Linked DNA regions of Homo sapiens. The protein of the gene in region 3 purifies or fractionates together with the protein of the main gene of each other region. This does not show direct contact. Each region holds a gene or a part of one and is shown on either strand. Other genes may lie near its edges. The genes, in order: CD46, CA9 and ITGA2.

Region 1 (3,659 bases), on a different chromosome or scaffold from region 3:
TGGCATCTCATTGTGAGTAGAGACAGTTTTTATTTCTTCTTTTCCAACATGTGTGCCTAATAGCTTTCTCTTGCCTTACTGTACTGGGTGGGATCTCCAATATAATGCTGAATGGAGTGGTAAGAGTGGACATCCTCACTGTTTTCCTTCCAGAATTAGGTCTTTATTAATTAGACAGAAATGTAAGTAAGGTTTTTTTAACCACTAAGTACAATGTTACTTTTTACCACTAAGTATAATTTTTTTGAACCATGAAGTGTAATGTTAGCTGTGAGATTTTTGTAGATGTCTGTTATCAGGGTAAGATAGATAGTACCCTTCTGTTCCTAGTTTGCTGAGAAGTTTTATCATGAAAAAATAAGATGATGAATTCTGTCAAACATTTTCTTTGTTTTTTGCATCTAATAAGATAACCACATGATTTTTTTTCTCCTTAATAGTCTACTGATGTGGCAAATTACACTGATTAATTTTTGCATTTGAACTAATCTTGCATTCATAGGGTAAATCCTACTTGGTCATGATTTACTTTTCTTTTTATGTATCACAGGATTTGGTTTGCTAATATTTTGTTGAAGATTTTTGGTCCTGTGTTCATCAAGGATATTATTTGTAATTTTCTTATAATGTTTTTGTTTTCTGGTTTTCGTATAAGGACAATGCTATCATCATAAAATGGGATGAGAAGTGTTCCCTCCTCTTGCACTTTCTTGAAACGCTTGTGTAGAATTGCTGTGATTTATTCCTTAGATGGTTGGTAGAACTCCCCAGTGAAGCCATCTGGACCTTCAGTAGGTTATTAACTACAAATTTTATTTCTTTGGTAGATATAGGAGTATTCAGGTTATCCATATCTTCAAGTGAGTTTTGACATTTTGTATCTTTCAAGGAATCTGTCCATTTCAGTTGTCAAATTTGTAGGCATAAAGTTGTTTATAATATTCCCTTGTCATCCTTTAAATGTCTGTAGGATATTTAGTGATATTCTCTTTTTCATTCTTTTGTTTGTCTGTTGAATAATTTTGTAAAGTAATCAAGTAAAGTTTACATCACTGATATTAAAGAATGACCATATGCACAAAAGAATATAAAGCTTTTTGGCTAAGGGATGGGGGGAAGTCAGAAAAAGGATGAGAAACACATACGGGGTGGACGTGAGGAAGGAAAGTGAAAGGTGTAGGCACCCCCACCTCACTTCCTGAGGCAGGGCCGTCAAGGACTCTCAAGATCGAGCGGCCATTAATTACATGGATTCAGATTTCTTTCATTCTAGACTTAAATTTAACCTTAGGTTTTGGCTCCAGCACCAATTTAACAGAGCAACGTAGGCATTTCCAATCCAGCAGCACACGCTGTTTCCAAGCGCATGTGACTGGCGCACCGCAGCTCCGTGCACACCCCAGGAGCTCAGTCCGTGCCCAGAGCAGGTGCCTGTGCTGTGGAACCTGACAGGAAGCCTCCCAGAACACCGCCTATCACAAGGCGCCACCTGAGGGGATCTGAGGTCTCTAAAGATCAACTGGTGCCTGTGATTTCCAAAGATTTAACCTTAGCCTTCAATGACATTTACATATAAATTGTCAAATAAAACCCTCCATAATTTACACTTAAGTCTAGGAAGACATGGCACAAATGTTCCAATGACAAAAAAAAAAAAAAAAAGTGTAGCAGCTGTGTGTGTTTTCCCCACTTTGACCAAGCTCTCACTGTAACACAGGGCATAAATGAGAAGGGTTGCACACAAATTTAAAGTATACAAAAAAAAAAAACCAAAAAATCATACGTTAACGCTGTTGACTTGTTAACAATGCAAGGAAACTCACTGGAAAATAAAATCCCTTATTTGAACCTTAAAAGAATGAAATGTACCAACTAAACTGTGTAGGCTCTAATGTAGCAGCACAGAATGTTTCCAGAAAAAAAATACATTGAAAAAAAATAAAAAATATTCAGAGATAAAACTAAAAAGATTAAAATATATATATCTTAAGAAAACTTATTGCTCAAAACATATGAAACTTAATTCTAAGAAATTCACCTACCTAAATTTAAACAAGATTGCTGCAGTTGCAGCTCGCCGTCTCCGAGAGACACGAAAAGTGATGAGGGGCGCAGGGCTGTGGGGATGTCAAGACTGGCCCAAGGTCAAAAAGCCCTTGAGGAGAGCCCTAGCTCCCACTGAGACCAGCCTCTGGCCTGCCCTCTGCAGACGGGAAGGAAGGGGATGGGTCTGGGGCTGCAGACCCTGCTGGAATTAGCAGAGGAGCCAGCAAGGCTGGGGGGCTATAGGCTGGCCAGTCTCCCTTAGCTGGATCCCGTACTCCACGCCTGGCCAGCACTCCGGGACGCCTGGCTCAGGTCTCCATCAGGATCTCCACTACGTGTTCCTACTTGCCCAGGTCAGAATGCAATTGCAGCTGGAGGTGGGAGGCCGGACGGCAGCAGGCCCAAGCCTCTGAATGCTTTGCAGGGCCACCTCCCATCGTGTGGGTCAGCACCGTGTGTCCAGGTCATCATAGGAACTGACCACATCTGAGGCCAGTTCTTCCATGCAAACTGGGGTTTTTGGTCTTCAGTATTTCAAATATCTCATCTAGCTACTTCTGAACGCCTCCTCTATTTTCCCCAGGGCTGTCCGTCTCCCAGATGCTGCTCTTCAGGGCTCCTGGCGCCAGTGCTGAGGTGACAGAGCAAAGGTCTGAAAACTGGCCCCTTCACGCAGCAGTGTCCAAAGCGGGGGGCATGGCACACCCCCTCTGGCTTCCACATGGCGGGCACAGGCCACAGGCACAGGATCTCTGCAGAAACCAGGCAGTGGAACAACGCCAACCCCACACTCTCGGGTGCCTGTGTGTGCCACGTCTCATCCTGGGCCATCTCCTCTTGGATCTGCCAGGCGTGTTGGCGATGAGGACCCTGCGGCAGTGGTTGGGCTCCACCAGCAAGTGGTAAAGCTGGAACTTCTAAAAGGACAAGTCCGGGAGTGACTGCCCCTGCCGGCTGCAGGAGGGCAGGGTCTTCAAGCTGGCTGGGGTGCCGCGCCTGGCCACCACTTCTTTCATTCTCAGTATTGGTTAATTTGCGTCTTTTTTTGTCAGTCTGGCTACAGGTTTACACACTTTATTGATCTCCAAGTAGCAACTGTTGGTTTCACTGATTTCCTCTATTTTTTTTTCTTTTCTCAATTTCATTGATTTTGGCTCTATTTTTATCATTTCCTTACATCTGCTAGTTTGGGATTTAACTTGCTCTTTTTTAGTTTCTTAAGGTGGAAAATTAGATCATTGATTTGAGACTTTTCTTTTTTTCTAACACAAGTATATTATGCTATACATTCCCCTGTAAGCAATGCTTTAGCTGCATCCTACATATTTGGATATTTTGAGATGTTGTGTTTTTATTCAATTCAAAACACTTTCTAATCTCCCTGCTGACTACTTCTTTTATGCATGGGTTATTTAGAAGTGTCCTGTACACTTTCCAATTCTTTGGGGATTGGCTTTGTTATTGATTTCTGCTTTCATTCTATTGTGATAATGCATGTTGAATGATTTCAATTTTCTGAAGTTTGTTAAAAGTTGTCTTATTGTCTAGAATATGGTCTACTTTGGAGAATGTTTCATGTGTACTTGGGGAGTATATACTTTTAAATCACTGTT
Region 2 (2,525 bases), on a different chromosome or scaffold from region 3:
TCTTCTCCTGTTTCTCATCTCATCTTACATCCTCTTTCCCCCGCACCCACTGTGTCCACACACACCCCAGGCCCACCTGCTTAGCACTCAGCATCACTGTCTGGTTAAACACAGTCCAGATGACACCCTGGGCACAGGGCGGTGTAGTCAGAGACCCCTCATATTGGAAGTAGCGGCTGAAGTCAGAGGGCAGGAGTGCAGATATGTCCAGTCCTGGGACCTGAGTCTCTGAGCCTGTGAAGAGGATCTATGTTGGGGTCTCATCTACATTGCACCCCCTTAAAGCTTCAGGGTATAGGGATACAGTTTCACCTCCCAGAAGCCAAGGTAACTCAACTCTGAGACCACTTCTTCGCTAAGTGCAGGCCCTTCCCATAAGACGTAACTCAAAAAAAAGTACAGGGCTTTGGAGCAACTGGAAGAGGCCTGAGGAAGCAAGAGAGGAAGAAAGAAAGGAAGGAGAGAAGGGAAGGTGGGAGGGAAGGGAGGAAGGAAGAGAAGGAAAGAAGAAAGACCGTCTGAGTCTACACTCTTAACTCTGTGTACCATCATAAAGTGCTGGGCCACAAGTTTAAGCCCAGAGCAAATTAAAAAGAAAAAATGAATCCCAGCACTTTGGGAGGCCGAGGCTGGTGGATCACAAGGTCAGGAGTTTGAGAGCAGCCTGGCCAATATGGTGAAACCCTGTCTCTACTAAAGATGTAAAAAAAAAAAAAAAGAAAAGAAAAGAAAAAATGATCTGAATAACTTGTAAATAAATATGAATATTGATAACTATACAAAACAGACACAAGAAATGCAAAGGCAGAGTTCTACCTAGTCTAGCAGAAACCTAAAAGGTCTAGTAGAGTAAGTGAGATTTAAAATGACCCAAGAGTGACTAAGAAGAGAACGATTTCCAACAAAAGTATTTACAAAGTTAAAATATTTGATGCTTATTAAAGATAAACAGTTCTCAGAAAAAGTTTAGCTCTCCAGACTTGACCTTGACAATTCCAAACACCATTTTTTGGTCTTGTTTTTTTTGTCTCATTTTGGTTTTTGCTTGGTTTTCTTTTTTTTTTTTTTTTTTGAGACAAGAGTCTCGCTCTGTTGCCCAGGCTGGAGTGCAGTGGCACGATCTCGGCTCACTGCAACTTCTGCCTCCCGGGTTCATGCCATTCTCCTGCCTCAGCCTCCCGAGTAGCTGGGATTACAGGCACCCGCCACCACGCCTGGCTATTTTTTCGTATTTTTAGTAGAGATGGGGTTTCACCATGTTGGCCAGGATGGTCTTGATCTCTTGACCTCGTGATCCACCTGCCTTGGCCTCCCAAAGTGCTGGGATTACAGGCGTGAGCCACCGTGCCCGGCGGTTTTTGCTTGGTTTTCAATCTGTAGGCAGCCGTTTGCGGGTAACTGTGTCTGTCAGCTTCATGGTTATTATCAAGATGAGCGCTGGCTCATGCTTCAATCCCTCCTGCACTGGAGGGAGCCCATCTCCAGCCTCAGACCTGAAGCTCCAAAGGGTGATTCTTTATGAACTAGGCCACAGAGATTAGTGGCCAGACCAACAAACTGACCTTCCTCAGCGATTTCTTCCAAGCGAGACAGCAACTGCTCATAGGCACTGTTTTCTTCCGGGCCCTCCTGGGGGATGACATTGTAAGACAGATGAGTGCATGTATCCAGGGCCATGGCTGAAGGCCGGAACATGAAGGGGGGTTCCCATAGACCTCTCCCATTCCTCAGCTCTGAGAATGCTGAGGGAACATAAAATTGTAATGGTTGTTGCTTTTTGTTGTTGCTGTTGTTTTTTTTTTTAGAGACAGTGTCTCCCTCTTAAAATCCTATGTATTATTTCAAACTCTATGTACTCTTGCTGTGCGAACCAACAAGCTTGGTGGACTGGTTTTCAATGACAAGCTGGAGAGAGAGGGAGAGAGCCCACTTTACTTAGGATACTAGGCTCTCAGTGACCCGTGCCCTTCTGACGTTTGCAGTCTCACTCACTGCTGCCTCCGTACATACTCCCCACAGGAAACCATATATACACCTTTGTGTTGGTGTCACCTCTGCATTCACCTTCATGATTCTGTGTTTGGCTTTTCAGGTGAGGTCCTGACATGCCACTTCTTTTATTTATTATTCTTTTTTCTTATTTTGCTTATGAACCTAATGTTAAGAACATTATGAACCTAAGAGTATGAACATATTGACATGCTATGATGGAGGCATTTCTCTGAACTTTGTGCTGTGTGGCTGGCATTAAAGAATCAGTGAGTGTGGCTGGGCACGGTGGCTCACACTTGTAATCAGCACTTTGGTAGGCTGAGTCAGGCGGATCACTTGAGGCCAGGAGTTTGAGACCAGCCTGACCAACATGGTGAAACCCTGTCTACTAAAAATACAAAAAAAAATTAGCTGGGCATGGTGGCACACACCTGTAACCCCAGCTACTCAGGAAGCTGAGGCAGGAGAATCCCTTGAACCCGGGAGGCGGAAGTTGCAGTGACCCAAGATCACACCACTGCACTCCAGCCTGG
Region 3 (3,659 bases):
AATTGGATTGTTCTTTGTTGCTATTGTATTAGAGGGAATGGAACCATTTAAATACAGATAATTTTATATTTCTTATTGTTTTACTCCTATGTGGATGGTAGACATTGAAATTTAGTTTTTAAAGGTATTTATGAGTTATGAATGTTTCTTTTGTAGAAAAACTCTATAAACATTCGTTTGAATAAAGTAATCTAGTATGTCTTTTATTTCTACATTTTACAACAAGCTTTAAAGTAAAACTTACTGAGCAGCTGGTATTTGTCGGACATCTAGGACTAGATCAGAAATGCAAAGTCCGTCCTCACCACAGTCTTTGTGGAAAGGAATCTACGAAAAAGGAAAAAAGATCCATACATTTGCTCTTGGGTTGAAAAAGCAAATTACAGAAGAATACATAGAATATTATTCTATTTACATAAAGTACAAAACCAAACAATGTTCTAGGAATATATAAATGTTTAACAAAATAATAAAGAAAAGCATTAATAAACACACAATTCAAGATAATCATTTGCACAGGGGGAGCTAGATGAAAGTGTCTATGGCGGGGACAGCTATACGCAGAGCTTCATATGTATTGGTAATATTTTTTGAGTATGAGCACAAGGCATTTACTTTATTTTTATTTATTTATTCAACAAATATATATTGAACACATACAATGGGCCAGGCCCTGCTCTAGGGAGTGGAAACACAGCAGTGAACAAGAAAGACAAAAATCCCTGCTGTCATGGAACTTAAGTGTTAGTGAACTTTATGCATATGTAATTGTAGTTCATTTAGAAAATTAAGAATTTTCAGGCTGCATCCTAACCATCCTTCAGACACTATTGCAGTGACTGTGGAACTTTATTTGCCAGTCTAAATCCAGGAAGTGTAAGCTGCACTTACACTGAAGACCTTGGCAGTCTCAGAATAGGCTTCAAGGGCAGGGCTAGTGCCAGGGTTTTCCAGACTGATGTCCACACGCAAATCCAAAGAGTTGACAACATCAGAGGGCTCCTAAACATACACACACACAAACATACAGGGGGAGACAGAGTCAGTTTATTAGAGCATAGCAACATTAAAACAAGAAAATGATTCCAAATGTGTTTACAATTTAGAGCACAGTCAGCTCTCAATTATGTAGAATATCTTTGTTGTGAATAATCAAGACTCTCGCTTCTTTTCTTCCATCCTAATTCTGCTTTTAGCCTCTCTTCTACTAAGAAACCAAAAGAGACTTGGGTCTAGTAAGAATTTGAAGCAGGGATTCTTAGTTAAGCTCATCAGTTCTTGTCAAAAAAGCACTATGTCTATACAAATGAAACCCTAACATTTGAATTTGCCTTTTCCTCAGAAGCGGTATCTTGGTATTCTTTAGTCCATTCACAGGCAGGACTTACTCTTAACTCTTGGGGGCCTCCCAGAAGTCCTCCCAGAAGGACTTATTCCTTCTGGGGGCCTGTCTACCATGACAGCTCTGGACTATGAGGAGATGTTTCCTTGGCTGGCTGCGGGCTTAGCAAGTAGGATGTACTTTAACTGGCATTGATATCAAATAGTGAAAAAGGATTTTGTTTTTTTAAACTTTAAAGAAAAACAGCTTGGCTGTCTCCATTTCCTCACTAGGGATTGCATGTATAATCTGATCCACCAGTCAGCACAGGATGGGAGAGAAGGGAAATAAGATTTTTTCCTTTAAGGAATCTATAAAATTGTCACTTTAACAAAAAAGAAGTCTACGTCTTCACAAACAAGAAACCTTCAAATTGAAAAATGAACTAAACAACTCAACTGATTTTAATTCATCTAACCGTCAACTTTATGTTTTTCTAGTGTTTACACTTAGCATTTCTTGAAGTAAGATCTCTCTGTACCATCCATTTACATCAGAAATATTTGGGTTGCTCCTTAGATCTGCATATTCCTTGGGCCTTCAAACCTAGATTTCTGATGGTAAGAACCCAGAATATACATTTCCCAAAAGTTTCCCTGGCAGTTCTTTCGCACCTTAAATTCTGAGAACTGTATTCTAAGAAAGTACTTAAATATCCTTTTAAAAAAGTGATTTCCTGAGTAAATTATCCTTTCAAATGCCATTATGTGGTTTCCAAGGTGGAAATATTCACATCATTTATAAAATAAATTTCCGGCTGGAAGTTTTCTCCTGAAAAGCATTTTTCTCACTTGGGAAATTTTCAAAATCCATGTTAAATACAGTAATTACAGCATACGATTAGAACAAATAATTGTTATCTCATAATCTACTATATTTCATCTATGTTAACTTAAATCTAATAGTAGAAACCACAATTGGAGTTATTTTTCAGTAGCTGAACAATAAATAAAATTTTTCCCTGATAGGAAAATATCAAAATAACATTTATTGCCAATGGAAAGTTCTCTCTGTTAAACATTTAAGAAAACACTGTATCTATGATTTCTTTAAGAATTGTATTTTTAGCCCTTTCATTGCAATTCTAAATGAAATTTGATGTTGCTGACTTATATAATAGATTGTGACCATAAATATTAGCATAAAGTAAATATGCTTCTTATTTATGGAATTACATAAGAAAGGCATTCATTGGAAGGGTGAGCATTTTCTAACTCATAAGCTTCCATTTTTGACTTTTACCACTCTCTCGTCTTTAGGAAGAAATAAAGTCAAAAGGGATGTTCCTGAGGCCTTACCTGTATATAAATGATGTGCTCGGGGCAACTCTGTGCTTGATTTACTACCATATTCTTCTGCAGGCACCTTTCATTGTTTTCTTTAAATAACCCCCTGGAGGTTACTCTGGATGAAAATCCATCTGCATCAAGTGTGATGTTATATACAATGGCTATGATAAAAAAAATCATAAAGAAATGTTATTTCAAATCAACTTATAGGAAAAAGCATCTTTGCTTTATTGTGTCTTCTTGGACAAAGTATCTCACATCAAGAAAATATGGAAATAGTCTTCATATTGGTGGCTTGTGAACCATAGCTAGCACCACAAAGCATTTGTCATTCTAGCTCTGATGTGACGTAGGTGACTGTGCATACAAAGAAATGTGATTCAGAGAAATGTGGCTGGGAGCAGTGGAAAGGAAACTAGACTTGCCGCCAGGAAACCTACTGTGATGAACCTGGGCAAATTGCTCACTCCCACAAGCACGGGTTTCATTACTCATAACACGGAGACACAGAATGGAAAGGAACAGTTGCTGAGCGCCTGCAACTGGACACATTCTCATGTATGCCATACAAGTTTTACAATGAATCTGGAAAGTGAATTTTATTATCTTATTTTTCAAATAATGTACTAGAATAAGTGATGTAAAATAATTCACCTAAGTTCACATGGCTAGTCAGAAGTAAAAGTTGGGTATTTTTGAAATAAGAGCTCATATTCTTTCTGCTTCCATCCAGTTGTAAGAATTAATTGTTATTGTGAAGATTAACTGAGATACTCTAAGGGAACATGGACAGTGCTTGACCTATTCTAGATGCTCACATAGGGAAATGCATGCAACACTGCAGCAATAAAGTCTCAGTCAGGCAGACTTGGTTTGAATCCTAATTCTGCTGTTTATGAGCTCTGTGACTTGGGGCAATTTACTTACCCTCTTTGAACCTCTGTTTCCTAATACCAACTCATGAAAAAAAATTATGTGATAATAACTGA

The links.
Region 1: the proteins of ITGA2 (region 3) and CD46 purify together in Homo sapiens (affinity purification with western blotting, with the first as the bait; one study listed by BioGRID). This does not show direct contact.
Region 2: the proteins of ITGA2 (region 3) and CA9 purify together in Homo sapiens (affinity purification with western blotting, with the first as the bait; one study listed by BioGRID). This does not show direct contact.

Annotation. Positions count from the first base shown.
Region 1 is NC_000001.11:207,761,959-207,765,617, reverse strand, and holds part of CD46 (membrane cofactor protein isoform 3 precursor), read right to left. Parts: intron 1-3,659. UniProt on the Homo sapiens protein: Acts as a cofactor for complement factor I, a serine protease which protects autologous cells against complement-mediated injury by cleaving C3b and C4b deposited on host tissue.
Region 2 is NC_000009.12:35,676,894-35,679,418, reverse strand, and holds part of CA9 (carbonic anhydrase 9 precursor), read right to left. Parts: intron 1,743-2,525; coding exon of another isoform or gene 1,728-1,742; exon of another isoform or gene 1,630-1,727; coding exon 1,563-1,629; intron 235-1,562; coding exon 77-234; intron 1-76. UniProt on the Homo sapiens protein: Catalyzes the interconversion between carbon dioxide and water and the dissociated ions of carbonic acid (i.e. bicarbonate and hydrogen ions).
Region 3 is NC_000005.10:53,069,281-53,072,939, reverse strand, and holds part of ITGA2 (integrin alpha-2 precursor), read right to left. Parts: intron 2,832-3,659; coding exon 2,680-2,831; intron 1,003-2,679; coding exon 892-1,002; intron 328-891; coding exon 245-327; intron 1-244. UniProt on the Homo sapiens protein: Integrin alpha-2/beta-1 is a receptor for laminin, collagen, collagen C-propeptides, fibronectin and E-cadherin. It recognizes the proline-hydroxylated sequence G-F-P-G-E-R in collagen.